4 separate regions of the Homo sapiens genome follow, and all the other regions are reported to be linked to region 1. Evidence: microRNA targets listed by miRTarBase, many of them from high-throughput screens and not tested one by one. Region 1 holds a microRNA gene; each other region holds the end of a gene's coding sequence.

Evidence for each region. The annotated mature microRNA hsa-miR-1266-5p reads CCUCAGGGCUGUAGAACAGGGCU and lies in region 1 at 3,089-3,111, shown strand. An mRNA with a match to its seed (bases 2 to 7 or 8) in the 3' UTR can be bound and repressed. Matches are read on the target gene's strand: a 7mer-m8 pairs with bases 2 to 8, a 7mer-A1 pairs with bases 2 to 7 and ends in A, and an 8mer does both.
Region 2: miRTarBase lists GPHA2 as a target of hsa-miR-1266-5p. Seed matches in the 3' UTR shown: 7mer-A1 at 5,222-5,228.
Region 3: the mRNA of ASCL2 is a reported target of hsa-miR-1266-5p. Seed matches in the 3' UTR shown: 7mer-m8 at 4,693-4,699.
Region 4: miRTarBase lists TSLP as a target of hsa-miR-1266-5p. Seed matches in the 3' UTR shown: 7mer-A1 at 1,194-1,200 and 7mer-m8 at 1,790-1,796.

Annotation. Positions count from the first base shown.
Region 1 is chr15:52,272,455-52,280,276 of GRCh38, reverse strand. MIR1266 (microRNA 1266) reads left to right here and starts at 3,077; the gene lies at 3,077-3,160. MYO5C (myosin VC) reads left to right here. Exons shown (of 41, transcript NM_018728.4): 3 at 603-768; 4 at 1,260-1,404; 5 at 4,559-4,715; 6 at 7,554-7,697.
Region 2 is chr11:64,929,362-64,937,183 of GRCh38, forward strand. It overlaps GPHA2 (glycoprotein hormone subunit alpha 2), which reads right to left and starts at 6,532. Exons shown (of 4, transcript NM_130769.4): 1 at 6,473-6,532; 2 at 5,997-6,099; 3 at 5,630-5,814; 4 at 5,110-5,513. The coding sequence starts at 6,099. The coding sequence ends at 5,412. It overlaps PPP2R5B (protein phosphatase 2 regulatory subunit B'beta), which reads left to right. Exons shown (of 14, transcript NM_006244.4): 7 at 961-1,020; 8 at 1,120-1,228; 9 at 2,075-2,128; 10 at 2,198-2,248; 11 at 2,388-2,507; 12 at 3,404-3,531; 13 at 3,784-3,885; 14 at 4,336-5,114. The coding sequence ends at 4,483.
Region 3 is chr11:2,263,949-2,271,770 of GRCh38, forward strand. ASCL2 (achaete-scute family bHLH transcription factor 2) reads right to left here and starts at 6,640. Exons shown (of 2, transcript NM_005170.3): 1 at 5,785-6,640; 2 at 4,550-5,178. The coding sequence starts at 6,384. The coding sequence ends at 5,803.
Region 4 is chr5:111,075,453-111,082,901 of GRCh38, forward strand. It overlaps TSLP (thymic stromal lymphopoietin), which reads left to right. Exons shown (of 4, transcript NM_033035.5): 4 at 494-2,574. The coding sequence ends at 622. Among named protein-coding and RNA genes, the nearest start is that of TSLP, 7.5 kb to the left of the region's middle.

The DNA of each region.
Region 1 (7,822 bases):
CATGTGGGCAACTGCAGACAGGAGACACCTGCACCAGGGGCCTTTCACGGAGAGACCACCACCTGCATGGACTCCTTTAGGTATCTGTCACCACCAAGTGTGTCAACTTTGAGCAGAGACTCAACAACCTTAGAGTTAAAGAGACCGTAGGTCACTGTGTCATTTTAGCTGCAGCATCTTGTTTTCAAATGAAAACTTGCATGGCCTCAACATTTAAACCACATATAGGTAGAGCCCTGGTGGGAGATTCAGGAATGGGGCACCTGGATCTCTGCCCTTGTAGCTTCCCCAACACTCCTTATTGAGGCCTCTGTAGATCTAAGGACCCCTGCTCTAGCTCCTCTTCGCAGATGAGAGAAGTGAGGCCCAGAGAGGGTGAGTGACTTGCCCCAGTGCACATAGCCAGTGCCCTAGTCCCCTGCTCCTACTTTTCATTATTCCAGGAGTCAGCTGTGAAGATTTTCTTGTTGCTATAAGTACATTTGCTTTTTAATGTCAGTGATGACTCTGATGGAGGGGTGGATAGGACAAAGGACAGTGCTTCAACAGAAACACCAAAAATCTTTTATTTCCAGAGCTTTAATTTTTATCTTTGTCCATAGGAGCTGGATTATTCTGTCAATCCAGAATCTCTGCCTCCACTTCGGAATCCTGACATCCTCGTGGGCGAGAATGACCTCACGGCTCTCAGCTATCTTCACGAGCCCGCGGTGCTCCACAACCTCAGAATCCGCTTTGCAGAATCCAAACTCATTTACACCTACAGTGGTAAGGAGAGCAATTCTAGGAAGTAAGGAATGGCACTGGAATGTAAGCTTGCTGTCTAGAGCCTCCTGGTTGTTTTATGTTTATACTGAGCACCCAGAGTTTGTTGTAAAAAGAAGTGTCTGGGTGGGGAGAATCTTCAACAAGAACTAAGACTGGACTACCTAGAAAAAGAGATGTAACAAAGCTCGTGTTTGAGTTTCTCATCAGATTTCATACATTTATTACTTATTTTGGGCAATGATATTACTTACACTGCAAATTGCAAAAACCTCTCCATTTGCGAGCATTTCCACCTGTCCTGTCAACCAACCGTCAGAACAGCCCGAGGGTGTAGGTGACTGGCAGGGAATTAATTCAGTGCGTGAAGTGACTTGCCCAAAGTCACACAGAAGGTTTAATAAGCGACAGAGCTGGGGTTTCTTAAAAAAAAAAAAACTGGAGATGCAGGTGGCAGTAAGAGTATTTTAACTGCATCTAACATCTTTCCCCAGGAATCATTTTGGTGGCCATGAATCCTTACAAGCAGTTGCCAATATACGGAGATGCCATCATCCACGCCTACAGCGGGCAGAACATGGGCGATATGGACCCACACATATTTGCCGTGGCAGAAGAGGCATACAAGCAGATGGCCAGGTAGCTTCCTGCCAAGCTGGACTTCCCCTTGCTCTGCCAATGCTCCCTGCATTTGCCAGACCATCACAGTGGAGGGGAGATATCTAGGTTGGGCTCATTAAAAGAGATAGGCCAGAGGTGGTGCTTTGTTGAGCCGACTACCTGGAATGAATAGCAAACGACTGTTCCATGTACCTGACCTGTCAAGACTGGAGTTTCCTGGGTTTTGTTCCTTCAAGGTAGTCAAGTCAGTCCTACCAGTCTGGGAATAGCAGATGCTTTTCTTGCAGTGTGTTTGGTTGGAGGAGTGTTGATTTATTCTCTGCTATGAGACGTTTAAGCTTTTTTTTTTTTTACCCATTGCAGGAAGTAGGATCTGATGACAGGGTTTTTAGCTGCAGGAGGTTTTAGGTGCAGGAGACATGGAATTTTATCCTAATTTCACTGCTAGGTGTTTGTAGGGCCCTGTGGAGTTCTCGTTTCACTAGTGCACATGTATGAAAAGCCTCCTGTGAATGAGGCACCGTGCACACATTCCCATGTGTCATCTGGGATGGCCTCAGAATAGCCCACGATGCAAATGTCTGGGCAGTAAACAGCTTCAGGGAATAACCAACCCAGGGTAGGCAGCAAGTAAAAGGCAGATCTGGGATTTGTGCTCAGATTTTTAAACTCTAGTTTATTTTTCCCATAACTATCACTTTTGGCTTCAGTGTCTTCATCTGTAAAGTATGGAGAATAGAAACACCACCCTATCTTTGTAGCTGCCTTTACAGTTTGCAAAAGAACTTTCACATACAGTGGTCTCCCTTGAGTCTTACAGCACTCCTGTGAAGTTGACTGACTTCATTGCCCTCATTTCACAGATGGGAAATCTGAGGCACAGGACCTGGACCTGCTGACTCTTTACCTAAATCTTTACTGCATAACCCCAGCCGCAGCTCCTGAGCTCCCTCCGCTTTATGTCTTCGTCTGTGAGCTGGACTCTCAGAGGGCACCCATTCCTGGTTCTGATGCTTATAATGAGGGAGCAGGTGGTGCTTACATGAGGTAGAACACGTGCTGCTTTCCTGCACAGATGTCTGATGGGCAGTCTGGGGCTAGACCGAGCTTCTTCAGAGTCATCAGAGACCCGGTGCCGTGCAGCTCCCTGTCCCTGGGGTGGGGCCGTCATCCTCAGGGACAAGCCAGTTCTCACCTCTGTCTTCCATATTCTAGGTAACAAGGCATATGAGGGGAAGGGTATGGCCCTCCAGGTTAAGGAGACTCTCTGGAAGCCCCACAAAGCACTTCTAACAGCTCGTCAGGCAGACCTCACTCACATAGGGAGGCTGGGATGTGCAGTCTTTCAAATGCACAGAGGGGCACTGCCTGGCCACTGGGGCCTAGTCCCTAAGAAGGAAGAGGAGAATGCAAATGCATACTGGGTAGAGAATTAGCAGCTTCCGCTGCACCAAGATTCCTTCTAACCCTAAAACCCCTGTGGTTCTGAGATTTTTCCCTGGCTCCCTGTAGGTCTCCCAGGTATCGTGGTGATTAGGGACTGGGTATGGGTGGGATGAGCTCTTTGGCACTGTAGGGCTGTGCTCACTTCAGCCCTAAAGAGCCAGTTTCTCCTTGGAGGTCTGTCTGTGTAACTGCCATAACAGAACGGAGCCCAAAGCAGGCTCGTGTTGGCCTTGTTTGATGCTAGACAGGTAGTGTCCCTCAGGGCTGTAGAACAGGGCTGGGATTACTAAAGCCCTGTTCTATGCCCTGAGGGACACTGAGCATGTCATTTCACTTCTCAGAGTCTTCATCTTCTCTCTTTGAAATGAAAATATTGGACCGGGGCTCTGTATCCAAAGTCTCCTCTAGCATTTACATGGGAGGCTGTGGCTCTGTGCTCTGGGTCAAGTCACTCCACCCCTGAGTCACCATTTTACTCTTCTGTAAAAGAGATATCTATGTCGTAGGATTTTTGTGAAGCTTAAATGAGAATCTGTATTCACCCAGCACCTGGCATGTGAGCGGTGCCACATCCACAGAGCCATGTTAGAAGCTTCCACCATCACAGTCTTATGACATGAAAAGTTTAATGCATTTTTAAAAAATCTCTAAATTATATAACAGAGCATGTTGGCTTAGAGAGCGCATATGTTCCCAAGCATCTTTTGAATAATTGCTCTCAAAATAATGTCCTTGAAATGTTTTTATATTTAAGTGGGATGTGCAGAAAGGAGTTGACATAAGGCCTGAGGCTGCTATCTTTAGAGGCCTGCTTGCAAGGTGGCCCATGGCTAGCCTCTGATTTCATGACGGTTCCTGACATTTCTTGGTTGAAAAAGTGGCTCATTTTACCTAAACTCAAGCTGTTTGTGTAAATAATGTGCTTTATGCTGAATACGTGCTTTCCTTCTGGGAGTCTGGAATATTGGCATATGCTAGGCAGAAGGTGGGCACTGCATCTCTAATGAGCTTCCCTGGCAGCCAGCATTTCACATGTGCTGTCAAATTCCTTGCTGGAAGAATTGAATGTGTCCTGTGTGACCCGACTGGGAGAGGACCCCTGGAAGTTTGCACCCGTGTTCCACTGGACCTTGCCCCGTGTGCCTTTTCCCCGTGCTGCTTTTGCTGTGTATCCTCTTGCTGCAATCAGTCTTAGCTGTGAGGATGACTATATGCTGAGTCCTGAGAGTCCTCTTACTGGGTCATTGAACCTGAGGTTGGTCTTGGGGCCCCTCAACATGGTACTCAATAAATACATGTTGACAGGCAGCATGATGACCTACACAGGGTCCATCTAGAAAGAGGGTGCTCAGGAGAGGGTGGGGAAGGCAGAGGAGAGATGAAATGAGAGGTGAAATTCAAGAACAGAGTTTAAAAGCAAAAATCCTGCCCAGAGAGTGGGAAGGATGGGAAGGAGCAGTTTTTTGGTTGAGTGGAAAGGTTGAGTAGGGAAGCAGTAAGGAGTAAGGATTTGAATAAGGTTGGATGAAAGATGTGAACTTTTAAAATTGTGTGTTCTGCACGATCACATAGAAAAAAAAATCTAGAAGGAAATTGATTGAGATTTAAAAATAGTAGAGTGACAAAACAGTTTCCCTCTTTTGTCTTGTCCACATTTGTCTTAATTAGCACATGTTGCCTCTTTAATGGGAAGAAACTAATATTTGAAAACTTTTATTTGCTTTAGAAACAACAGAAACCAGTCCATAATTGTAAGTGGGGAGTCAGGTGCTGGAAAGACAGTGTCGGCTCGCTATGCCATGAGGTACTTTGCCACCGTCAGCAAATCGGGCAGCAACGCTCACGTGGAAGACAAGGTCCTGGCATCCAATCCCATCACCGAGGTGCGTACCACTGCGGAAGGCAGCTGGGTGTTGGTGATGGAAATGGGGGTTGGTTGGTTTGTGTGCTCTCCTGGCTAATTCAAGTTCCCACCCTTTAAAGACTAAAGAAGTGAGGGCAGGAAAGACCCGGGAAGCCTATTTGCTGGTGGGATTTGAAGGAGATGGGGGCAGAATTGTTACTTTCAAGGCTCTCTTCTGCTCTACCTGCTGGGCTGGAAATCTACCATCAGACTCCAGGAGTCCTCTGTTTACATTTACATCCCAGGGGAAACCAAACATCACTGGTACACTGAAATCACTGGTGTTCTCCACCCAGCTGGCATCAGCATTCATGAGCTGATTGTTAAAATATTCAGGAATTTTGCAAGCTGATTGATAAACCTTTGGTAGTTTGACATCAGTCAGGGGAGAAGTATTTATACCTTCTGCCTTGGCAGAGGCCACATGTCAAGACTCTTCCTCCTGCCCTCCCCAAGAGCCAGTTCATCAGCACACTACTGACTGGGACAGAGAGTGGGCAAGGCCAACCGTGACGGTGCCCAGGGGGGTGAGGAGACAGCCCTCAAGGAAGAAGAGGCACCCAAAAGGCACAGAGGAGGGTCCTGCAAGCCAACTCCAGCTGCCCCGCAAAATGGGAAGAGGATTGATTTGAATTTATTTGGAAGCAAAGCAAAAAATTAAGAATATTAGACTACTAGACCTCTTCTCCCTGTTTTCTCAAATCAAAATCCTCAATGAATATTTATCAGACAATCTACTCTGTTGAAGTCACTGCTTAGCTAATGTGGGAAGTGATGGAAAAGAATAAGACCCAATCTCCAAGTGTAAGATTCTTCTAACCTAATGTAAGAATATTTTAAAATTAAATAGAAACATATGTCGGGGGGGGGGTACTAAGAAACACTGCAAAGCTCATAATTCAGAGGCATAGGCTTACTTAGAAACATAAATTACAATCCAAGATACCAATAGAAAAGTTATCAAGGCTGGGTGCGGTGGCTCACATCTATAATCCTGCACTTTGGGAGGCTGAGGTGGGTGGATTGCTTGAGCTCAGAAGTTCCAGACCAGCCTGGGCAACATGATGAAACCCCATCTCTACCAAAAATACAAAAAATTAGCCAGGTATAGTGGCACATGTCTGTAGTCCCAGCTACTCAAGAGGCTGAGGTAGGAAGATTGCTTGAGTCAGGAGGTGGAGGTTGCAGTGAGCCAAGATTGCACCACTGCACTCCAGCCTGGATGACAGAGCAGGACCCCATCTCAAAATAAAAGTTATCAAGAGCCAGTGCCAAGTTAAATGCCCAGTGGATAATTTTGTGTAAATATTTAGGGTTTGTCTCCTCTACTAGACTGCACACTCCATGAAGGCGGGACTGTATCTATTTGGTTTACCTTTGTTTACCGAGCGCATGGCACATAGTAGGTGCTCAGTAAAGACATGTTGGCAGGCAGCATGATGACCTGGGTCATCTAGAAACAGGGTGCTCAGGAGAGGGTGGGGAGGGGCAGAGGAGAGATGAAATTGAAGAACAGAAGTAAAAAGCAAAAATCCTGCCCAGAGAGTGTGAGGGATGGGAAGGAGCAGTTTTTTGGTTGAGTGGAAAGGTTGAGTAGGGAAGCAGTAAGGAGTAGGGATTGGAATAAAGGTTGGATGAAAGATGTGAACTTCTAGTTGAGCATCATAGGTATTTGGGGCCTGAATGAGTTGAGGCACCTCATATTCTCTCATTTAATCCTCCCTACTCTGTAAGTGTTCTGGTCAGTCTGGGCTGCTATTATAATAATAAATATAATGTACTTTAGTATAATATACTTTAGTGTCATTGACCAGGTGGCTTATAAACAACAGAAATTTATTTCTCGCAATTCTGGAGGCTGGAAGTCCAAGATCAGGGGGCTAGCAGGGGTCAGGTTCTAGAGAGGCTTCTCTTCTGGGTTGCAGACTGCTGTCTTCTCACGGTACCCTTACATGGCAGAAAGAGAGCAAGAGAGGTCTCTGGGATCCCTATTATGTAGGCATTAAAATCCCACTCCCAGGGGCTCCACCCTCGTGACATCATTACTTCCCAAAGGCCCACCTTATGATACCAATACATAGGGTTAGGATTTCAGCATGAAGATTTTGAGAGGACACAAACATTCAGTCCATAACAGTGAGTTGCTTATGATTCTCATATTACAGATAGGGAAATTAAGACCTGGAAAGATGAATTAACTTTTTTGTTTGTCTGTTTTTGAGACAGGGTCTCGCTAAGTTACCCAGGCTGGAGTGCGGTGGTGCAATCATAGCTCACTGCAGCCTCCAACTCCTGGGCTCCAGCAATCCTCCCATCTCAGCTTTCTGAGTAGCTAGGACTACAGGCACACACCACCATGCCTGTCTAATTTTTTTTTTATGTTTTGTAGAGACGGGGGTCTCACTGTGTTGCCTCATCTGGTCTCAAACTCCTGGCCTCAAGTGAATTTCTTGCCTCAGCCTCCTGAAGTGCTGGGATTACAGGCGTGAGCCGCTGCACCTAGCCAGTGAATTAACTTTTAAGACATTACACAGATAGCAAAGATAGAACCCAGGACCCTGAAACATCAGAACCTGTGCTCTTTCTGGTCCTCCCCAGTATCTGCCAGTGGGACCAAGGAGAACCTTGAGCAGCAGGCTCATGTTCTGATTTGTCATGTTCCCTGCCAGCGTGGGGTTGCTTTCTTTCCCCAGACTTCCCTCTGCCAATCAGACCTTCCCCTAGGGTACAGGATTGCCTTTTACTAAAAACCCCTCCAATAATTTTGAGGCAAAAATCTTTTAATGTTGTTATTTCAATAGAGTCTTATTTTTTTTAGGCCGTTGGAAATGCCAAGACCACCCGCAATGACAATAGTAGTCGGTTTGGGAAATACACAGAAATCAGTTTTGATGAACAAAATCAAATTATAGGAGCCAACATGAGCACTTACCTCCTGGAGAAATCCAGAGTTGTCTTTCAAGTAAGTATTAAATTTCCTTTTCCCCAACTTTTTGAGCATTATTTACATTTACATACTTATTATACATACTCAGGCAAGCTACACTATGCTGTGAGTTGAAGAGTAGGGTTTTCTTGTCTTTCATT
Region 2 (7,822 bases), not on the chromosome of region 1:
AGTTTGGTTCCAACGTTTGGGTGAACTTTGGCAAATTACTTAAGCTCTCTCCTAGTTTGCTCGTCTTTAAAATGGGAATGCTGGCTGGGTGCAGTGGCTCATGCCTGTAATCCCAGCACTTTGGGAGTTGGAGGTGGGCAGATCACTTGAGATCAGGAGTTCAAGATCAGCCTGGCCAACGTGGTGAAACTCCGTCTCTACTAAAAATACAAAAATTAGCTGAGTGTGGTGGTAAACACCTGCAATCCCAGCTACTCAGGAGGCTGAGGCAGGAGAATCGCTTGAGCCTGGGAGGTGGAGGTTGCAGTGAGCCAAGATTGCGCCACTGCACTCCTGCCTGGGCGACAGAGCGAGATTCCATCTCAAAGATAAGATAAAAATGGGGATGCTGCTTGTACTAACTCAGGGACCATTATCGAGGTGACATGGGGCCTTGCCTGCAAAGCACTCAGCATAGCTCCTGGACTGAGGCCGGGACTCTGAAACATTAGTTGTTATTAGCTACAAAATGGGTGAGCCATGATCCCTGTCCTCCTGCACCTTGGAGTTCATTAGATTCCCTGCCTATTAACATTGGGGTTGTTTTATTTAACCGCTGAGTCTTGATTTCTTCATCCATGTGATGGATTTCTTAAGCCCCATCTCCCTGGATAATTCTGAGACTTACATGGTACGGAGTAGATGTGCTAAGTGTTTGTCATTCTCTTGGTTGACTGGCAAGAGAGCCTTGAGCTTGGGACTCAGTGGCAGAGGTGGCTGGGCTGAGAAGGGCATTTCAGTGTGGGGGGGCGGGGATCTCAATGGGGCCTGGTTTGGGATGTTGGGAAGGGAGCGCAGCCTCTGGGTTGGGGGAGAGTTGGATGAGCGTGCCGTGCAGGTGAGGGTGGGCAGGCAGGATGCCTAAGGGGGCACTGGGCCTACCCTGCTTGCTTTGAGCCCACCTGCGTTCTTCTCTTGCAGGTTCATCTATGAATTCGAGCACTTCAATGGTGTGGCTGAGCTGCTGGAGATCCTAGGAAGGTGATTCTCCCTGGGCCTCAGCTGGAGCTCAGGATTCTGGAAGGAGGGACTGGGGCCAGGTCACCTGAGCCCTCTTCCTCTCTTCTGCCTCCTCCTCAGCATCATCAATGGCTTTGCGCTGCCCCTGAAGACGGAGCACAAGCAGTTCCTGGTTCGCGTCCTGATCCCCCTGCACTCTGTCAAGTCGCTGTCTGTCTTCCATGCCCAGGTGAGGCCCAGGCCTGTCCCTGCTGCAGCAGGAGCTCCAGACAGTCAGGGCAGCCAGTGGGTCCTGGAGGTCAGATCCTCCAGGGATCCTATCTCACCTTCTTTGTCTTTATAATTCTGTTCCATCTACCTTAGAAAATTCCCACTGGCGCTTTAAGGCTAACCTCAGATATCAGCTCTGTGAAGCCAGGCTTTTCTTCTCTACCCTCCCTTGGCAGAATTACATTCTTCTCCATCTATATTCCCAAATATTTGGATACACAAATCTATTATGGGAGATTTTGATACACAATTTTTTTTTTTGAGACAAAACCGTACTCTGTTGCCTCAGCTGGAGAGCAGTGGTATGAACATGGCTCACTGAAGCCTCTACCTGCTGGGCTCAAGCAGTCCTCCCTTCTCAGCCTCCCGAGTAGCTGGGACCACAGATGTATGTGCCACATGCCTGGCTAATTAAAAAAAATTTTTTTTTTGTAGAGACAGTGTCTTGCTATGTTACCTAGGCTGGTCTCAAACTCCCAGGCTCAAGTGATTCTGCTGCCTCGGCCTCCCAAAGTGCTTGGATTACAGGCGTGAGCCACCACACTAGCCATATTATGGAACCTTTTGCAAAATTTATAAAGATGAGTTTGTTGACTGTCCCCACTCCCCGCGAGATCAGAGTTGTATTCCCAGCACACTGAATGTGATGCCTGGTACATCCTAGGCAGGTGATAAATGCTTGGTGAATAAGAAAGTAACAGGCCGTGGGTGAGCAGTATTTGGCATTCTGTCCTGGACAGCAAGTCCTTGGCGCCTGGTGCCTTCCTGACCTGTCTTCCTTCCCTCCACCTGTCACCCCCTGCAGCTGGCATACTGTGTGGTGCAGTTCCTGGAGAAGGATGCCACTCTGACAGAGCACGTGAGTACCTCTGGGGGCTAAGGCAGCCTCTCACCTCTGCAGGCGTGACTCCTGTCTCATCTCCCACAGGTGATCCGGGGGCTGCTCAAATACTGGCCAAAAACCTGCACCCAGAAGGAGGTATGAAGAAGGGCTTTGATGCCCGCCAGAGGGAGGCTGGGAGGGCTCGGCCTCTAGAAGGCAGTCAGGTGTGTGTATGTGTAGGGGGAGATGTGAGCTGCTGCCCCTCTGTCCCTACTCCCCTCCCCAACCCACCCAGGTGATGTTTCTGGGGGAGATGGAAGAGATTCTTGATGTCATCGAGCCCTCCCAGTTTGTGAAGATCCAGGAGCCCCTTTTTAAGCAGGTGGCTCGCTGTGTTTCCAGCCCCCATTTCCAGGTATGAGGCAGGACAGGCGGGGATGGGAGCAGGGCTGGCCTGGAAAGGTTGGGTAGCTGACCTAATAAAGCTCCCTTTGCCCTCAGTTTCTCCTCCAATCCCGGGTCTGGTAATGGGGAGATGCTGGACTTAGGGTCAGGAGACCTAGGGTGAAGCCTCGGACCTGCCTTCCACTGGCTGAGGGGCCTTGAGCAAATCACTGCACCACTCTGATTCTGATTAAGCTTCCGCAGCTGTAAAATGGGCCAACAACCTCTTCACAGGGTGGGGATAAGGATGGAAGAGATTGTGAGTGTAAACATGTTTGGTAAACTGAAGTGTGATCCAGAATGTGATGGAGGACTGTTATCACTTTTCCCCTTTTGCTAGTGGCCTTAGATTTCATTAGACTCGCTTTGGGATGCAGCCAGGCTTCCCCGCACCAACCCAGCTAACTAACTCATGTTCTGCTGCAAGCATGTGCAGACTTCCTCCCGTTCTTATGGGCCATAACCCAGTGGAAGTCAAGTCTTCCTCACAGTGATTCTGGCACTTCGGTTCATTAAACACCTAAAAGTCTAGTATCTCATTTGATTCTTATAACATCCTGTTGAGATAGGTATTATTAGCCCATTTTACAGATGAGAAAACTGAGGCTGGGAGGTTAAATGCCTCTCCCAAGGTCACATGGCATAGTAGAGTCTGTAGTGGTTAGGATTCACCCCGCAGCATTGGATTCCGTATCTAGAACTCTTTTCCCTTCAACACTGTTGCTTCCTCCAGGGCTCAGATAAGCCCTGAAGGTGGGGTGTGTGAAGGTCAGGGGGCCTGGGCGTTGAGGTAGTGATGGACACCAGACCTTGCACACAGAGAGAAGCCACTGCCAGTTAATCACTCTGCCATCTTGTCTGCCCCAGGTTGCAGAGCGGGCTCTGTATTTCTGGAACAATGAGTATATCCTAAGCCTCATTGAGGACAACTGCCACACTGTGCTGCCTGCTGTGTTTGGGACCCTCTACCAAGTCTCCAAGGAGCACTGGAACCAGTGAGTGCCAGGCCATGACCTAACTCACAGAAACTGGGACCAGGGCCAGCCAGTCCAGACCCGACCCCAGGGTTACTCCTAGCTGGAGAATATCAGAGAAAGCATCAAAAGATGGCCCAGGGGTGGTGAAAAGGACAGGAAAGTGGGCAGTGCTTGTGTTCAGGTGGAATGCTGTATGTGAAGGGCAGGGAAAGGGAGAGGTGGGCAAACCAAAGCTGTTTCATCTCCTCATCCCTCCTTGACACTGCCAAGAACCATCGTATCACTGATCTACAATGTGCTCAAGACCTTCATGGAGATGAATGGGAAGCTGTTTGATGAGCTCACAGCCTCCTACAAGCTGGAAAAGCAGCAGTGAGTGTTGGGGGCTGGGCGTGGGGGAAGGGAGAAGAGCAGGGAGGAGTCAGACCCCCATGGCTGGAGGGAACCCGAGGACTACCCCAAACTCTGTCTGATCAGATGCTGCAAGACTGTCCATGCTCCTGCCATCCTATGCCTGACTGTCTGCCCCTGTATCCTCCCGTCATTCTTCGAGTAGCTCAGACTTGTTCTGACTCCCTGTAGCTTCCTACAGAAGCCAGAACCACTCAGGCCCCACCCGTCATCTTCTCTGTGACTGCAGGCTGGGATCTGTCTGTCCTCTGCTCTCTTCCCTCAGTAGAGGGTTTTTATGGAGTCACAGAACAAAAATGGTTCCATGCCTTCCCTTTGCCGGTGGGGTGGTAGTGAGGGAGTCTGGACTGTGAGGGAGTCTGGACTGTGGGGGGCCCCAGGAAAGGGAGCTGCCTCACCCTCTCTCCCCAGGGAGCAGCAGAAGGCCCAGGAGCGTCAGGAGTTATGGCAAGGTCTGGAGGAGCTGCGGCTACGCCGGCTACAGGGGACCCAGGGGGCCAAGGAGGCCCCCCTCCAGCGGCTTACACCCCAGGTGGCCGCCAGTGGGGGTCAGAGCTAGACAGCACCTCAGAAGGGGAAAAGCTAAACCCAGAGCTGTCAGTCCCTCTATCCCTTCTCCTGTCCAGGGGCCCAGAGAGAAACACACCTACCCCTGGCCTTGCCAGAGTGGCTTCTGAGGACTCCCTGCCCAGCCCAGCTTTCACTGGGGGGAGACGAGGAGAGGCAATGGTGGTCTTGGCAACAGAATGCTCAGCCCCTCGTGGCAGGACTTGACAAGGGCAAGCTTGACCAGGAAGCTGCCATCAGGGATCTTCCCCTGCCCCGCAAAGCTAGGCTCCAGCTGCAGGCGGGCTCCCACCCTCTGCTCCTGGCCTTGGGCAAGGGCACTCAGCGCCTCGCCTGCCCCTGCCTTGGCCAATGCGAGGTCCTTCCTTATCCCCACCATGGGGTCCATGGTCTATTTATTCTCGCCCAGCTCACCCTCTACACAGACACTGTCCTGGGTGCACACTCCTCCCTTCCCTCGCTGTGTACTTCCTTGTCCCCTTTTTATTTATTGGGCAGGGGGAGGGGGAGGGCACAGGCAAGAAGAGATTCACAGTGTCCTGGGGTAAGGGGGGGTTCACAGTAATCATGGTCTACTCCTCTTTCCGTGGCTGGGGGTAGACTTAATAAAGAGAGAAATTCAAGAACTGCTTGCTTTATTTAGGGGTAAGGGCAAAGAGGGAAGTAAAATGATGAAAGATTGGTTTAGAAGGGCCAGGCAGAGGCAGGGAAGAAGCAGAAACTCCCCTCTTCTCAGGTGACAGTCACAAAATCTTACAAAGGATCAAAGCTGGAACAACCCTCCCCTTATTTAAAAAAATTCCATAGCAAGTAACCATCAGGGCTGGAGCTCCTTCCAGTTTTTGAATCTTGAACACAGGTTTCCCCCACCAGAACGTCAAGCCCTGTGACCCAGGGGAGGAAGGAGGGGAGAGGATGGGCTAGTAGCGAGAGAGGCGACACATGTCACACTGGCAGGCCCTGGCCGTGAAGATCTCGAGCTCCTCCCTCCGGCTCCCCACACACTGCAGCTGTACTTTGACCTGCGGGAGAGGGGAGTCCGTGCTGCAGTCCCCTTTCTCAGGGCTGTCTAGGATCTCCATCTCTCTGGTCTTCCCGCGACCCCAGCGTCCATCCACCGGGCCCGGGCCCTCCTCACCTTCTTCAGGCCACTGATGGTGCAGCACTGAGAGACGGAGGTGATGTTGTGTCGGTAACCACTGGCCACCAGCACAGAGTACCGAGAAGGGAAGGCGCTGGACTCACAGTGGCCCACACAGGCCTGTGCCACGTGGGAGCCCTGGCAGGTGCCTTGGCGGTCACTTCGCACTGTCACATTGAAGGCTAGAAGGAGATAGGCAAGCAGTAGACGGCGCCTCTGCCAAGGTTTGCCTCGCCCCAGCTCCCGTTGCCTGTGCCTCAGTGTGGGGCCCTTTAGGGTGCTGCCTGCCCCACCGTCCACTCAGCTCTTTGCTCCCACCCAGAACCTCCACTGCTCCTAGCCCTCCGGTCCCAGAGGTACTCACGGTGCAAGTGGCAGCCTGGGATGACTGCCTCCTGGCCCCAGGCTTCAGTGACTGCCAGGACCAGCAGATAGAGGACCAGGGTTTGAGGGGACGCCATAGGCATCTGAAACACAGTGGGGAGATGTCTCTACGTGGGTGTGCAGGTGGGATGGCGAGTTCTTTAAATACTGCATTCCAGGTGAGTGAGCCAGGGCTGGCTGGTCTGACAGGTGAGGTGTGCCTGAATGGTGCTGCCTTTTCCCTGTATCTGCCTTTGTGTGTGTGTGTGTGTGTGTATGGGTGTGAGTGTGAGCAGCTGTCTCTGGAAAGGACCTGTGTGTCAGCCCTCTGTGCAGTGATTCTCCCTTCCCTGGAATTTTCTTCGCCATCTGGAGCGCAAACATCTTCCTCCCTCCATCTGCCCCATCTTGGCCTGCAGGGCCCTCGTCCACATTCCCAGACCCTCCCCAGAGCTCCTCCTGCCTCAGCGAGCTCACCACTTCCGAGGCCCAGGAACAGAGCGGCTTGCAGTTTTCCTGTGCCTCCTGCTGGTCTCCAGCTTGGTGCTGGCTCTCCAGGCTTTTATTTGCCAGCATTTTGGAGCCACGCCCTCTTGGAGATCGGCTTTCAAACCAGCCTCCCCTGCCTGAAGCCTCAGAGCGATCCCACCTGGGGGATCTTGCTCTTTGAGGTGCGGTCCTCGGAGAGCAGCTCCTGCTGCTTTCTGCTTCTTTCTGTCCAAAAAGCTACCCACAGCCCAGGCCTCGATAAGTCAGATGTGGAGAGAAGCCTAGGAGCTGGTGGAGTGTGCAGCGTGTGTGCAGCTGACGACACAGGGGTCAAGACTCTTGGCTGAGTTGTGGACACCTGGGTTCTCTTTGCTCTGTGACCTTGGACAGAACATTTCCCTGTTCAGGGCCTGATCACCCCTAACTTTATTATTATTTATTACTATTATTTTGAGAGGGTCTGGCTCTGTCACCTAGGCTGGAGTGTGGTGGTGTTATCTCGGCTCACTGCAACCTCCACCTCCCAGCCTCCCAGACTCAAGCCATCCTCCCCCTTAGCCTCCTGAGTAGCTGGGACCACAGGCACACCACTATGACCAGCTAACTTTTGTATTTTTTTGTAGAGACAGGATTTTGCCATGTTGCCCATGGTGGTCTTGAACTGCTAAGCTCAAGTGATCCGCCTGCTTAGGCCTCCCAAAGTGCTAGAATTACAGGCATGAGACACTGTGCCTGGCCACACCCCTAATTTTAAAACCACTAAACTCAGTCCTGCTTGCCTTTTTCTAACTGCAAAGGAAAGGGATTGGGGAAGGAGATTCTTAGGGACAAGGGAAATTATACCAGTGGAGGTCTCCTGAGATGTGCTTGGTGGCAGGGCCGGGGGTTTGGGGGTTGCTGTCTGTTTCAGAGTTGCATGGCCACGGTATCAGTGGATGATTCGCATCCTGTGCTACAGAGTAACGTTCTGAGCTGGAGTGCTCCCCTAGCCCTGGAATAACAGGGACCTGACTCCTGAAAGGGCCTGAAGTTATCAACCCCAGCAAAGCTGATCTATTTGTCCAACTCTGGTTTTATAGATGAGGCAACTAAGGCTCAAAGAAAGAAAGTTACTAAAAGTCACCCAGCTAGTTAATGTTAGGGCTGATTTCAAATTCAAATCTGCTGTCCATCCATGGTGCTAAACTACACTTGAGCAAGAATGTGGCAAGCTGGAGAAAGACCCCCAGGCAGCAGTGGCCAGAGGGGTTGGGGCAAGGTGGAGAGCCAAAGGAAGCCTGTGGTGATTCTGGGCAGCCCCGCTTTGGGGTCATTGCCTCACTGATCTGCTCAGAAAGA
Region 3 (7,822 bases), not on the chromosome of region 1:
CCCGTCCACCTTGCCCTGTCTAGCTCTGTCCAAGGCTCTCTCCGGCTGGCTAATCACCTCTGGGCACAGCTGTGCTGCTGAGGTCTCTGGGATGACTGAAGGTCTTTGAAGGCCACTTTGGGAGAAGCGAAGGTGCATGGACACCAGGGACCCTGCTCACAGCGAGTGTCCCTGCCCCATCCCTTTCTGCATTGAGTGGGACAAGCTTGCTTCCATTTGGGGGATCGCCATCTGACTATTCCACTTGTCTTAGGGTGGGGCAGAGATTAGGTGATGTGGAGGGGCTTCTCTACATGGCCCCCCTGCCCCAGCTCTGAGGGGTAGCACCAGAGTGGGTTTCACCAGCGTAGGGCACGTAGGCCCCGCCATGAACAGGGCCCCAACCTTGGTTTAATGCTTTGCTACTGCCATCTTAAAGTTCTTTTTTTATTTTTTATTTTGCTTTATTTTTTATTAGAGATGGGGTCTCCCAGTGTTGCCCAGGCTGGTCTTGAACTCCTGGCTCAAGCAATCCTCCGGCCTCAGCCTCCCAAAGCACTGGGATGACACGTGTGAGCCACCTTGCCTGGCCTTTGGAATCTGACTACTTTTATCTTCTAACTTGTTTTGCAGGTGCAGGCCAACGGCATACAGCAGCACTCACATAAGCAAAGGAGAGCGTGCACAAGGCGCCAAATGTATATCCACCCTCACTCGTCCCCCCACTTGAGTAGCGCATCCACGATGCCCACAGACACCAGGCCACACAGAAAAGGTGCCAGGGACCCACAGCAGTGCAAGGCAGCGTGTCACACCTACGCATGAGCAAGCCGGGCGCTGATGGCCACCGAGCAGCCACGTTTTCCATTCAAATCCGCACTTGCTAAGGATGCAGCAGGAAGCCAGTGGTGTTCTAACAAACGTGCAGGACCCGGGAACCTGTCATGTCCTTTCTTACTTGTGCGACTTCTCTGTGTTAGCCGAGGTCTCTTGCTGATGGATCTACCCACAGTGCCTTTTGTCTTTGAACTTGTCCCTTCCCTCCTTCCTCGCCCATCAGCGAGCAGGAGGTGGAGGGTGCTGGTGGAACAAGCCTGCGTCAAGGAGTGAAATCAGCTGATTTCATTTTTGTGCAGTTTCCACTGTTCTAGTAGCAAATGAAATAGAGACGCCTGTGCCAGGACAAAACACACACTGTGTCATTCCAGTGATTCCGCATAGAAGTTAAATGCTCTTATGCTTGCATTTTAAACTGGCATCACATAATATAAAGATGGATAACTACATTCACGCTAGTCACTTAAATTCCTAATCTTTCTTACTCAGAATGGCATTAAATAGTGAGTATAAAATAAGAAGTATAAAATAGTAAGTCAAGAGGTTGACTATAGAAGAAAGAAAAATGCTTTATATTTTAGCACCTTGAACATGACATCACGATCACCTTCTCCCTGGAATCAGTTTCTAACTTCCAGGTGGGGACTAGGCCTGGACCATGAGCTCCTAGCAGAGCCCTGCTGCCCCCACAGCAGAGCCCAGGACAGGCTGGCACCTGGGCCAGGTGAGGCTCTGTCCAGGCTCACTGATCTCAAATGCTGAACTGCTAAGGATGTCATGTCCCCAAAGGAGCCGCCAGGCTCAGCCTCACTTCCTGGAAGGCGTGAACATTGCAAGAATGTGGAAGTGAAAGAGTCCAGGGCTTAAATCTCAATTCTCATCATTTTCAAGCTGAGTCCAAGGGAGAGAAGACAGTCATGGATTCTTAGTTTCTGTTTCTGGTTGAGCCAGCAGGGTCCCTTCCTCATCCCTCTTTTCTGCTTATCACTAGAGACAGAAACTAAAACCATGACTTTAGGCTGCTGAGAGCCTAAAACAAAACGACAGCAAGAGAAGGTGGGTTGGACCAGCTTGCCTGTGACTTCAGGCACTTCATCTTTACTGGGCACTGGGTGAATGACAGTGTGGGGAGGGGTCTTCATAACACGGCAATCAGCAGCCCACTGTGCCCAGGAGACTCGCCTGTGGTCCTGGTTATCAACCACAGCCCTTTCCAGTCTCAAAAATGTCCCCGCTGGGACAGCAAGTTACATCGTCGCTACAAGTCCTGTCTCCTGGGAGATGCAGTCCAGCAGCACTACATCCTCTGAGCAGCAGGTGCCAAGTGGGATGAACTGGATAAGGACTGCATTCGGGGAAACGCCCGTGTGAAAGGAAATACACAGGAAGGAGGTGGCAACGGGTGGGAAGCCACTAGACCACGACGCGATTCTGCCCCAGTGAAGGCGAGGGGATAGCCTGGGCCTAGATCGCTGTGAGGTCTATGGAAGTTTCCACAAGCTTGCTGGGTAGTTCTCGAGGCAAACTCGGAAAGGGAGTCCCTTGTCTCCCTGGAACGGATCTTTCTTGGCATCTCTGTCACACTCATTAGGTGGGCCTGGTGTCAACCCCATTTGCAGGCCACCCCAAACTTGATCAAAGGTCCGCTTCTGGCACCCCATACCCTGTCCTACAGGAAATACAGGGACAGGCTCCCAATAACAACACCCAGCACGGTGCCATCAACACCACCACGCACACGGGGGCTCAACGGAACAGACATCTCCGCTTCTTCAATGAAGACACTGGAGGGAAATTGCTTACAAGGCGCTTAAGAGACCTATTAAGCAAACTTGATGTGTGGACCTGCGGCGGATCCCGATTCTATAAGGCCAACTGCACAAAACCACGAGACCCCCTGAGGACTGCGCCATTGGCTGGGTCCCCGATGATATGAAAGAACGGTGGTTCATTTGAGCGGGTGATGTTTTTGCGGTTTCCTTTAGAGGCACACGTGAAACATGACGGGTGAAAGGATTCAAAGTCTGGGATTTGCTTCAAAGCAACGCAGGGATGGCGTGGGGGATGGATGGGGCAGGAAGGGCCTTGAAACTGGTGCTGGAGGCTTCCCAGGGCTGCCCTGGAGCCCAGTGCGTCCTCCACCGGCCAGACTGTACAACGGTTGGATCCTGTGTCCACTGCTAGGACCCAGGCTCCACGAGCACGGGCTTGTGTGGCACACGGATGCACCCTAAGTCCTGGCACAGAGACTGCTCAACAAAGGCCTCGGTGCTTTTGTGTATGTTTGAAATTTTCCATAATAAAATGAAAAATGGGAAAATGGGAAAACAAAAATGGCAGCACTACTTACCCTCTGCAGAGTTTTGTCCGCTTCACGCCAGTGGGTGGCAGTCGTTTCCTCTGCCCTGGCCTTCCATCGTTTCCCCCCTACCCTCTTCACCCACCCAACAGCCCCCTGTGGTCCTGGCAGCTGTGGGCCTTTCCTTGAGGTCAAGGTGTGGAGTCCTGGGGAGGGCTCAGGGAGGCCACCGACCCGGGTGTGGATTCTGGGAGAAGCCTGTGGGATGTCCCTCCCTGGGTGACCACGGCAATGTGCCCCCTCCTGTCCCTTGGCCAAGGCCAGTTCCCTGAGCCCTGCAGCCCCAAGCCACAGCTGGTCCACTGACCCCAGTTGAGCCTGGTCCTCATCAGACCAGCTGACCCCTTTGACCCCCGCTACAGACTCGGCTTTGACCTTGGCTGCTGAGGAGCCCCCACCTGGACTGAGGCTGCAGCTGGCGAGAGAGGAGCCCTGAGCTCCTCTGATAAGAAGGGACCTGGCCAGCCTGACGTTTGAGACCCAGGCATCCCGGTAGCCTGGGTGTCCTGTTGCCGTGGTTATTCAGGAGCCACCCACTCTGGGACAACACCAGCTGCTCCCACCTCGCAGGGCTCCCACGGCTCTGTCCCAACCACTCCTTTCTGAAGGAAGGGGTGCCTCTGCGCCCTAAAGAAACCGGGGGAGCCCCACAACCCCTCCCCCACCAGGACACTAAAAGGCAGCTTTCGGTACAGTGAGACATCAAAGCCTCCTAGGCCCTGAGTCAAAGGTATAGCCGTGTAATATCCCAGTGCCAGCTCTCCGGCTGCGGGGAGCCTGGCGCAAAGCTTCCAAGCCTTCCTTGTTCCTTTCAAGAGCCGCTCTTAGAATTCAGGTGAGCGGAGACCTGCAGGGCCTCCCCAGTGCGGGCAAAACCCAAAGCTAGCGAGAGGGCAGCCTCCAGGCACCTCTCACTAACTCCTCCCAGAGGCCGTTGAGGTGGGTCTGGTCAAACCCATTTGCAAGTTAACCCACTTGCCCTGGGCTGCCCAGCTGCCACGTTAGTGGAGATCTGAGCGTGGTGGCCTGCGCAGGAGCCCATGCCCTCAGCCCCACAGCCGGTGCTCTCTGGTCAGACCACCTCAGCCTAGCCCCACACCCAGCACTTACCCCAGCCCTCGGGATGGGTCAGCAGCCTCCAGCCTGCAGCTTCCAAGCCAGCGAGTAGCCCTGTCTGGACAACCCACCAGCCCACCACCTCCTGGAGGATGCCCCCAGCCTCACAAGGTGTCCCAATGGCTCCGCTATCAACGGCCTGGCTGCACTCCAGATCTCACCCAGACCCACCCTACGGAGGAGGCAGCAGGGTTTGAGGAGTAGTGACCACGGAAGTCTGGCCGTCACCTGGGAAGTGTAGGTGATAGGAGCCACTGGTAAACAGAACTGATTTATTTATAAAGTTCACGCTCCCTTGAAGAGGTGTGCCCCACACAGGCTTCTCCCTAGCAGAGCAGCAGTGCCCACAAACCCACCCCAGGGTGGGCTGTCACGGGGGCCTCACGCCAGGGACCCCGCCCCTCAGGGACTGCTCGTGTCCAGATCTTGGCCAGCATGGAAAACTCCAGATAGTGGGGGCAGGGGTCCAGGTCATCTTTATTACGCCCCAGGTCAAGGGTTCTTTGTACAAAAATAGGTCTCCGTTTGCCAGCAGTGTCCCTCCAGCAGCTCAAGTTAATGTGTAGAAAATGGATTCTCTGTGCCCTTAGAAAATCCTCTCCCCTCCGGAAAAATCTCCAAGTGTTGGTGCCCCCCGCCCCACTGCAGTCGAGAAGCTGTGGGGAGGGGCGGCGTCGGAGGAAGCCGCCAGCCCTTATGGGGCCAGCTCCAAGCCCGTTTCCACCGCGGCATTGGTCAGGCTGGGCCGGACGAACGAGGCGGCGTCGGCGGTGCGGGGGGTGGTGGGTGGGTCCCCGGCTCGCTGGGGGCGGAGCGCGGGCCGGTCCACCTGGCGGGCTCCCCGGCGATGAGCGCGCCGGCCGCTCGCTCGGCTTCCGGGGCTGAGGCTGCGGGGGGAAGGTGGGGAACCAAACGCGCGTCAACGCGGGCGCGGGCCCGGGGCAGACCCCGCCCGGGCCGGCCCTGCCCGCACCTCCCCCAAGCGAAGTCGGCAGTTTCGTTTGCTCGGTTGGTTTTGGAGTCTTGAGTCCGTGGGTGCCGCGACTCGGTCTGAGACACGGCGGGGGCGGGGCGGGCGCTCGGAGCCGCGGTGAGTCAGGGCTCCGCGCCCGCCGACTCATTTCTGCCGCCCCGGCCCGGGAGCGCGATTTGCAATGCAAAGTCACCCCGCCTCCAGCACCCCAATCTGCCCCAGGATCCGCCAGCACTAGAGACCTCAACGGCCCGACGGCCGCTCCCCTCCCCTCGTCTACCCCTCCCTCGTCGGCGGCTGAGCCGCGAGGGGAAGTTTTGCAATCCCGGACAAACAAACGCCGGTCTTGCACGGGCTTGAAAAACTTTGGGGGAAATGAAGAGTGAGCGAAATCGAAGCCATCGCTCGGGCCTGGCGCTCGGCTCCGCGGGCTCCTGGGGGCGCGACCCGCCGGGCCTGCCCACCCCGTCCCTCCACCCCGGCCCCCGGCCCTCCCTCCTCCCTGCCTCCCGGCTGTTACCTCATAGGTCGAGGGCGCTCAGTAGCCCCCTAACCAGCTGGAGAAGTCGAGTAGCTCGCGCTCCGCAGGACTCAGCGCGCCTTCGCAGCCGCTGTCGTCCGACGAGTAGGCGGAACGCGGGGAGCCGGGCTCCGAGCTGCCCCCGCGGCCCGGGGACGAAGAAGCGCGGGAGGGCGAGGCGGCGACCGGGGTGGTCCCTGGCGGCCCGCGGGGCGCAGACGGCCGCACGGCCTGCGGCCTCAGCCCTCCCGCCAGCGCGTTGCGCACGGCGTCGTGCTCGGCCAGCAGGCGCTGCAGCGCGCGGATGTACTCCACGGCTGAGCGCAGCGTCTCCACCTTGCTCAGCTTCTTGCTGGCGCCGCCGTGCGGCACGTGCTGCCGCAGCGCCTGGAAGCCCAAGTTCACCAGCTTCACGCGGTTGCGCTCGCGCTCATTGCGCCGCGCTACGGCCGCTGCGCCGCCTCCGGTCTCTGCGGTGGCCGGTCGCCGCCGCCGGCTGCAGCGCAACAGTTCCGGGGACGCGGGTCTCCGCCGGGCAGCGCAGCCGACAGGGACGGGGGGCGCAGGGGGCGCGGACCTGGGCAGTGTGCCGCCGTCCATCGCGCCTGCATCCACCCGCCCGCTCCAGGTCCCGGCGCGCCGCAGGAAGGTGCAGGCAGAGGAACCGGAGGCGACGGGGAAAACTGTGGCGCCCCAAGGGGGCTTCTGGCACGGCGCCGCCAGGCAACTCCCCAGGGCACGCGTCCTAGGTCGTCTGGAGCCCGGGGATAGGAGGCCTAGTGGTGGCAGGCCGTACGCGCCAGGGAGCGTGGGACGCTCGTGTCCCGCGCGTGCGGCCGGACTCTCCCAGGTCTCCGCAGGCGCGGCGCAGGCGGCTGGTTTTTAAATGTATAGATAACCCTCCTCCGCGCCGCCGCCGTCGCCTTTCTCACGCCCTCCTTCCTTCGCCTCGCCCTCCCGCCACGCTTCGCCCTCCCCCTCGCGCGATCACATTCTGTAAGGCCCAAAGCGTGCGCATGTCCCCCTAGCCCATCCCCCGGACGCAGTCCACAGATCCCCAGTGCGCCCAACTGGCGAAATCTGCGAGTTCCCGGTGCGCCCCCTGCTCCCGGCAGGTGCTTAGTGCGCCCCCAAAGCAAGGTACGCAGGTCCTGGGTTGAGCCTTCCCGTACCCCCACCCTAACCCCGCGCGCAGCCCCGCCAGTCCCAAGAGCCGCCAGACCTTCGCACGCGCAGCGCGCGCTGTGGGAGGGAAGGCGCGGCCCTGGCGACAACACGGCTGTTCGGGAGGCGCGCAAGATCCCCGGGGGCAGCACGCGCCGCGCAGCCCACACCCACGCCCCACCCTCCTGGGGCCGAGGAGGCGGGGGCCAGGGTCTCAGCCAATCGTGGGCCACCCGTTTGGCCAATCGCGCAGGGCGCGGCTCCACGCCCGGCCCCATTGAGGAAGCGCGTACGCGTGGCGCGTGGCTCACGGGGAGCATCGCTAACAAAGCTGGGTTCCTGCTGGGCCCCGCCCTGCTCCTCGCCCCCGCGACTGGGCTGGGCGCGCTGTCCCCTAGCGCAGCTATGTCCCGAGCGCGCCCCCACCTGTGCGTTAATCTACTGGGAATGGGGGTGGACTGCGCCTTACCTGGGGCGGGGTGGGGCTTAAGGAGTGGTCGAGACTGAGGCGGGGTGGGAGGTTCAGGTTCCCGGGGCGCCTTCCCCAACCCGCCCCGCTTTCCCCGTCCCTCCACGCGCACCCTGCCTGTGGTTTCCGTGCGCCCCCGGCCTGAGGGCTCTGGGCGGCACCTTAACCCGGAGGGCCTGGAGGTCTGCACCCGACCGCCTTGTGCCAGGACGGTCAGGTCCACGCCCTCCCCCACCGTGGCTCCCTCCATCTGCAGTATCCCCCACCTCCAGCCCGTCCTGCCCTCCTGTTCTCCGTCTCGCTTCCCGTCGGTGCCTCCGGGATCTCACAGCCCTCGCACCTCTTTTGTGACCCAGGCTGTTTTTCTGCACCCCCCTCTCCCCTGAGGGCACTGAGATTGGGCCA
Region 4 (7,449 bases), not on the chromosome of region 1:
AATGATGTCTATAAACAGGTATAAGATAGCTCTTGCCCATGAGGAACTTGTGATCTTGTCAGGGAGGTCTTGAAATCAGCAATTTATTCATTTACTTAATCACTCAACAAATATTCAGTGTTTCCTATGATTAAGACACTGTATTCAGTGCTATGGGGAATACCTATGATGCAATATAAAGAAAAGCATGTTAAGTGAGAGCCAAGTTAAATGACACACACTCTTAAGTACTGGAAGAGTTTCCAAAAGCAAGGTCTGAGCAATTAGTGGAGGCTTTTTGAAGGAGGTGGTGCTTGGCCTTGAAGCAAAAGTAGGTGGGTACAGAAACAGGAAGGCATTCCCCTGGAAAAGGCACATGCTAGCACATAGTAAGCAGGTGCTTTGGAGACACACTGAAAGATGGATTTGCATAGAGAAGGCAATTAAACCTGCTCTCAACAGTTACTAAAGATAGTGAAAAGTAATTTTGACTATTGATTCTTATATTCTGCAGATAAATGCTACTCAGGCAATGAAGAAGAGGAGAAAAAGGAAAGTCACAACCAATAAATGTCTGGAACAAGTGTCACAATTACAAGGATTGTGGCGTCGCTTCAATCGACCTTTACTGAAACAACAGTAAACCATCTTTATTATGGTCATATTTCACAGCACCAAAATAAATCATCTTTATTAAGTAGATGAAACATTAACTCTAACTGTGACAAAGAAGACCACAAATAGTTATCTTTTAATTACAGAAGAGTTTCTTAACTTACTTTTGTAAGTTTTTATTGTGTAAGTTTATAATGCAGGGGAAGTACTACTCCTCAAATGTTGAGGGAAGCTTCCATAACATTGATGACTGGCTTCATGGCAGTAATTCTCGGCTGTAGTTGCATAAGCATTGCTCAAGAGGAAAATCCAAAAGTGCAGCAGGAGAACTCTTTTCCCTGAAAAAGGAAAAATATTGAACTCAATGATAGCACCTAAACTTACATTTAAAAGACAGACATTCCTTCTACATGTAATGACACTTCTTGTGTTAAACTAAAAATTTACAAGAGAAGAAAGTGAAAGCAAATGGGGTTTCACAAATAGTTGTAAATATAGTGAAGCAATTTGAAATAATTTTCAAGCAAAGTATTGTGAAAGTATTCTAAGCCAAGTTTTAAATATTATCTAACAGACAAGAGTGGTATATACAAGTAGATCCTGAGAAGTACCTTTGTTACAGCTACTATAAATATACATATAAATTATAGAATCTACTTTAATTTATTTTGTGAACACTTTTGAAAATGTACATGTTCCTTTGTAATTGACACTATATATTTCTTAATAAAATAATTCTCAAATTTGTTTCTTATGAATCATCTCTCAAATCTAGTTAGACAATTTGCACACATACTTTTCTAAGGGACATTATCTTCCTTCAGGTTTTTACCTCCACTCATCCTTAGAGCCCACTGACTGCTCCCCTTTATACCTGTTGGCCCTGCCTATAGGAGAGAATATTTGGAGATAGGCAGCTTCAGGATGCATTGCAATCATCCTTTTCTTAAATTATGTCACTAGTCTTTTATTTTTTCCCCTCTTGAACTTTCCTCACACCTGGAAGAAACAAAGTAGGAAAAAGTGAACAGGGGATGTCAAATCGATTCTTGAATTCCCGCTGCAAGCTAGAGCCGCAGGCACCCTCTCACTCAATTTCCACTCAGAACCCTATAAACACCAGTGGGAAGGGCAACCCACTGCACGTGGGAATGCACTGATTTTTCCTAGGAGTAGACATGTTCCTCTAATTACTCCCTGAGGGTTAGTTGGGGCTAAACCATGACAGAAGTGGGGAAGTTCAATGTCCTTAAATCCATCTTACTTGCCAACAGGTAAGAGGAAGCTTACATTACATGTCCAGTCCACATTTAAAGAGCACTTACTGTGGAACAAGCCTTCAGCCAAACAATGGGGATAGAAAAGTAGGTAAGACTCAGCCTTTGTCCAGAGAAGCTCAGGGTATAGCTGAATAGGCAGTTTCTTTTGTCCTGAGGAAAATCAGGACATGCCTGCTTTCTAAAAATCTTCCTCTGAAGACCTGACCCAAGCTCTTAAATGCTATTGTAAGAGAAATTTCTTTGTCTATTAACTCCATTTTAGTAGGGATTCACTGACTAGATTTTACTGAACTATGAAAATAAATACACATAATTTTTCACAAAATTTTGGGCCCAATTCCCCTAAAAGAATTGAGGATTAGGGAGAAAGGAGACAACTCAAAGTCATCCCATTAAGTGCAGTTTCTTTGAATCTTCTGCTTTATCTTTAAAAATTTGTATAATTTATATATTTTATTCTATGTGTTCCATAGATATCTTAATGTAAAATTAGTCATTTAAATTACACTGTCAATTAAAAGTAATGGGCAAGAGATTGCATCATACTAATTTAGTAAGAACGTTCCCAAATGTTGTAACAATGTGGATCATACATCTCTGGTTTTTTAAATGTATTGAGGCTTTCTTGGTGGACTAGTATAGTATACGGTCAGTTATGTCAATGTTTCATGGTCAATAAAAAGGAAGTTGCAAATTGTGATTTAAGCATATAAAGTTGGTTATATACATACTGAGACTACATTGTTAGTTATGCTATTTATATAATCTATATTCTCACTTTTGTCTCCTTCATTCAGAGAATAAGAGAGCTGTATGAAAGTCTACTGCCGGCCGGGCGCGGTGGCTCATGCCTATAATCCCAGCACTTTGGGAGGCCAAGGTGGGCAGATTTCAAGGTCAGGAGATCGAGACCATCCTGGCTAACACGGTGAAACCCCGTCTCTACTAAAAATACAAAAAAATTAGCCAGGCATGGTGGCGGGCACCTGTAGTCCCAGCTACTCGGGAAGCTGAGGCAGGAGAATGGCGTGAACCTGGGAGCCGGAGCTTGCGGTGAGCCGAGATTGCGCCACTGCACTCCAGCCTGGGCGACAGAGCCAGACTCCCTCTCAAAAAAACAGAAAAAACAAGAAAGTCTAGCTGATATAATTCTTTATTTCTTTGTATCCATAAAGTTTTGCTTTCCTGTTGCTGAAACCATTTTTATCCAATGCCTAAAAAATCAATGGAGCCATTTATTGATCATTATACCCTTACCATTACAACATTTCCACATCTTATTTGCCAAGTAATCTATGCTCTCTATTAAACTCTTTCTGGGTCTCTTTGCTTTTGATATTTCTTATACATAGCATGTCATTTTAGTGTGTGGAGGTGGGGAGCGAGAGGGAGTGGATGAATTCCAAACAAAGGCATGTTTACTTTTAGTGCTGTTGCTGCATTTTTAAGTTTTCTGTTTTCTTAGTTCCACATTATTTGTATAATTTTAACCTAAGAACAGATCTTTACATTTATTCCTTTTAACCATTTCTTATCGGTTTTTGTCCTATCCCCTCAGCATGTTGATATCTTGAGAGTTTGGCTCTTGGTTCTATTATTACATAACTCTCCCTCATAGGCTTTCTATTGCTTAATTCAGTTTTTGAAAAAGTGTTGACCAAGGCAGGACTAAGCCCTCCTTACCATCAAAGGAGGCAACTCTATAGGCTGGTAAAGTTATTTGTCAATGTTCTTTGTTAAAAAAGAAAAAAAAAGTTCCTTTAAGAATCAAATATCAATTTTTTCATTCTATCCATATCAAAATAAAGGTGAGGGGAAATTTATCAAATGCTTTACTGAAGTCAAAACATACTAAGCCCATATCAAACCTACAGATCAAATAAATTTATCTAAAAATGGGAATTTTAAAATATTTCAATTATATTCCTTTCTAAATCTTACAAGCCAACTCTCTGAGAATTATACCAGACAATAACATTAAACTGATCTGAGATTTTTTAGTATTCTCTCCTTTTTATTATTCAAAAGTACTAGGTTTTCTCAAATGTTTTTGTTCTAGCTGTAGCTCTGAGAATATCTCTTGGCTTTTGTCTGGCATTGCACTTTGTAAATACACCTATACTTTTTGATACCCAGTATTTACAGATTACCAAATAATATAGTTTCACTGATGATTATCATGCAAAAGTTATTTATATCTAAACACAAAGGATAATAGCTCATATACAAAGTTAATTGCAAATTGAATTTTTTGAGTCTCAGGTTCTACATTTCTAAAATAAGGATGATGCTTCCTGTATTTTAGGGTTATTATTAGAATTAAAGTACATTATAAAAATAATGTCCTTGGCAAATGGTAAGGAAAATACTTTAAATTTAGTTATTTGAATGCCTATTTGTAACCATTATAAAGATTTGGAATAAAGACTGTTACACAGCCTGTCAGTAACTTTATTTTTAGTTTTCTGTCTAGGACTGCTTTGTGGCAATAGAAAGAAGGTTGAAAAGTTTAAGCACACAGTTATTGACAGCCTAGCAATTTTGAACTCTACCAAGATAGCAGAGTTCATAAGACAGAGTACCTCAGGTAAGAGGTGCACAGAGAAAGAAGCTCAGAGACCTGTAGGTATATCTCTTGAATATTTAGCTGAGTACTTTTCAGCACATGGCTGAAAACTCACATGGCTATGAGAAAACTACCCAACACTGGGGAATGAGTCACTTGAAAGGTTAGAGGGAATAGTGTCCATTACTTACTGAAAGCCAGGAAAATTGCCTATTTTCATCCACTAGACTGGAATATCTCACAACTCATTAGGCATTGGGTAGGGCACTCAGGAGAGACTTACTTTAGTAATTAATAATAATTAGCCCAAGGCTAATTGCTGCAATAATCCCGCATTAGAAATCTTAAAAGTAAGACTTGAAAGAATCAAACTGTTTCCAAGTAACTTAGCTGAATCCTACAATAAACTTCAAGAATATCTGTAGAAATAAAAAATACCTAGGACCCAAAAAGGAAAATTCACAATATTTTGTATACAACTAAAGATTATCAGACATGAAAAAAGTGAGAAAATATAACACATGATAAGGGGGAAAAGTGAAACTGATTCAGAGCTAACATCGAAGTTAGAATTAGCAGACAAGGACATTAAAATGGTTATTGTAAAATGGTTATTGTAACTATATTCAATATGTTCAAAAAGTTAAATATAGACACAGAATACATAAAGAAAATCCCAGTCCAACTTCTAGATATGAAATCTGTAATGTGTGAAATGAAATGCACAGTGAATGGTAATCATGAGAGATTAGATGTTGCAAAAAATAAGATGAGTAAACTTGAAGACATACCAAGGGAAACTATCCAAAATAAAACACAGAAGGAAAACAATAACTTAAAAATGAAAAGACCATCAGAGAGCTGTGAAACAACTGCAAGTGCCTAATATACATGTAATAAGTCTCTTTAAGTAAAGAGGTACGGAAAAAAATATAGGAAGAAACAATGGTAAATTTCCAAACTTTAAAAAATTCTAAACCCACAGTTCCAAGAAGCTCATTGAAGCACAAGAAACAGATAAAACTACACTAATGCTCATCATAATCGAATTGCTCAAAACCAGAAAATCTTAAAAGCAGCCAATGGTATTGTAAAGACCTTCAGCATGTTCTTCTTAGGATTTCCTCTCCAGAGCACTTCAACCCTTTCTCCTGTACTTCGTATATAGTATTTCATGAACAATGTCATGATATAAGTAGAAAAAAATTTTACATTGGTTGGCCTTAATTATTGATTTCTACCTGTTAGCTTCTGTTTAAGTAGGAGGGTGGGAAGATTCTTTTCCATTCTCCACTATTCTTGAAGTAAAGACAAGGATTGTCATAAATGAAACCAACACTTACTGAGTAGTTTTATCAGTTATTTTTCTTATACTACCTTATGAAATATTTGCAACAATCCTGTGAGCTATGTGCTATCCCCATTTTACAGATGCAAGAAAAGGCTCAGTGAGTGAACTATCCAGTGTAGCACAACTAGTATGTGTAGCATCTGGCTGATTCTGAAGTGCACACTTTCTATTACTTGAGATTAAAGTTTGAGATTTTAAAATAAAAAATGCCTTCCACTAAGTGGAAATTATCCTCATTACCTAACTAATAGATATTGTAGTTGTCTCCTCAACATGGATTCTACCACTTCTTAATTTTGCATCTATTTCCTCATCCACCAGAGGGCTTTAGGGATTGATCCCAGCTCCTGGGATGGATCTGGATTAGTCTAACCTAGTATGGGTGTCCCAATATCCTTGCTTGGAGTTAATAGAGGTAACCAGGCTAATATTGATAAGCATATTGGTAAGCAAGTACCTTGACTCTGGTCTTATTCAGGATAAACATATAGCCACCTTTGGTGATGAACAATAAGCATAAGGTTTTTGAGGGGAAACCCTGAAAAAACGTTTCCTTACTTTAAAAAAAAAAAAAAGGCAGTAGAGTGATAGTCTTCCCCTCTCATGAGATACAAACAAAGAAGCATGCAGTGGCAATTACAATTAGCAATTATCCTAAGACCAGGATTGAGATGAAGCCATGAATGGCAGAGAAACAAGAAGGGAAGAGCCTGAAGCTTTAAATATATAATTACACAAGTAGATTAATCAACCTTACCCTCACCCTCCTTTTGATTTCCAATTCCGTGAGCTACTTAAGTAAAGGTTTTGTTTTGGTTTTTCTGTGTGGGTGGTTATTCTTACTGATTAATGCTACAACTTACCTGAATGCCAAGACAAGGCAAATTAATCTTGATTTAATTTGAAGTGGGAAGAAGAGATGAGCAAGATGAAGACAGGCCCCAGTATCTTAGGGAACAAGCCAAAAATTATGACCTGGGATGGTAAGGATGCAGGAAAAGTAAACATGTAAAGAGGATGCCATTCTTTGGCATATTTCACATTGTTTCCTGCTGTGGCTTGAACATGTGTCCTATCCAAAATTCAATTTAAAGCTTAAATCCCCATTGTATTTGGGGAAGTGATTAAATCCTGAGGGCTCCACCGTCATAAATGGATTAGTTCCTTATAAAAAGGCTGGAGGAAACTAGCCTAGTCTCTTCTGTTCTTCCCATCTTCTACCATGTGAGAACACACTGTTCATCCCCCTTTGCCCTTTCTGTCATTTCTGCTATGTGATGACACCTAGACAGTGCTATATATGAGGAACAGACCTTCACCAGACACTAAACCTACTGGCACTGGCACCTAGATCTTGGACTGCCCAGCCTCCAGAACTGTGAGAAATCATTTCTGTTGTTTACAAATTCCCCAGTCTCAGGTATTTTGTTATAGTGGCACAAATGGGCTAAGAAACTTTCTATAAACAACTCTCATGTCAATAGATCATTGCCTTGGCAATTAAAGCTGAGATGCCACTTTTCAAGATGGTGCTCATAAATGCAGTATTTGTATGCCCCTATACTCTTCCCTCTTCTACTCTCCCTTCTGCTAGCTATTCTTGTGTGGAAGAGAGTGGCAGGGCATTCCAAATTGTATTGAGGATGAACTTAGATTGT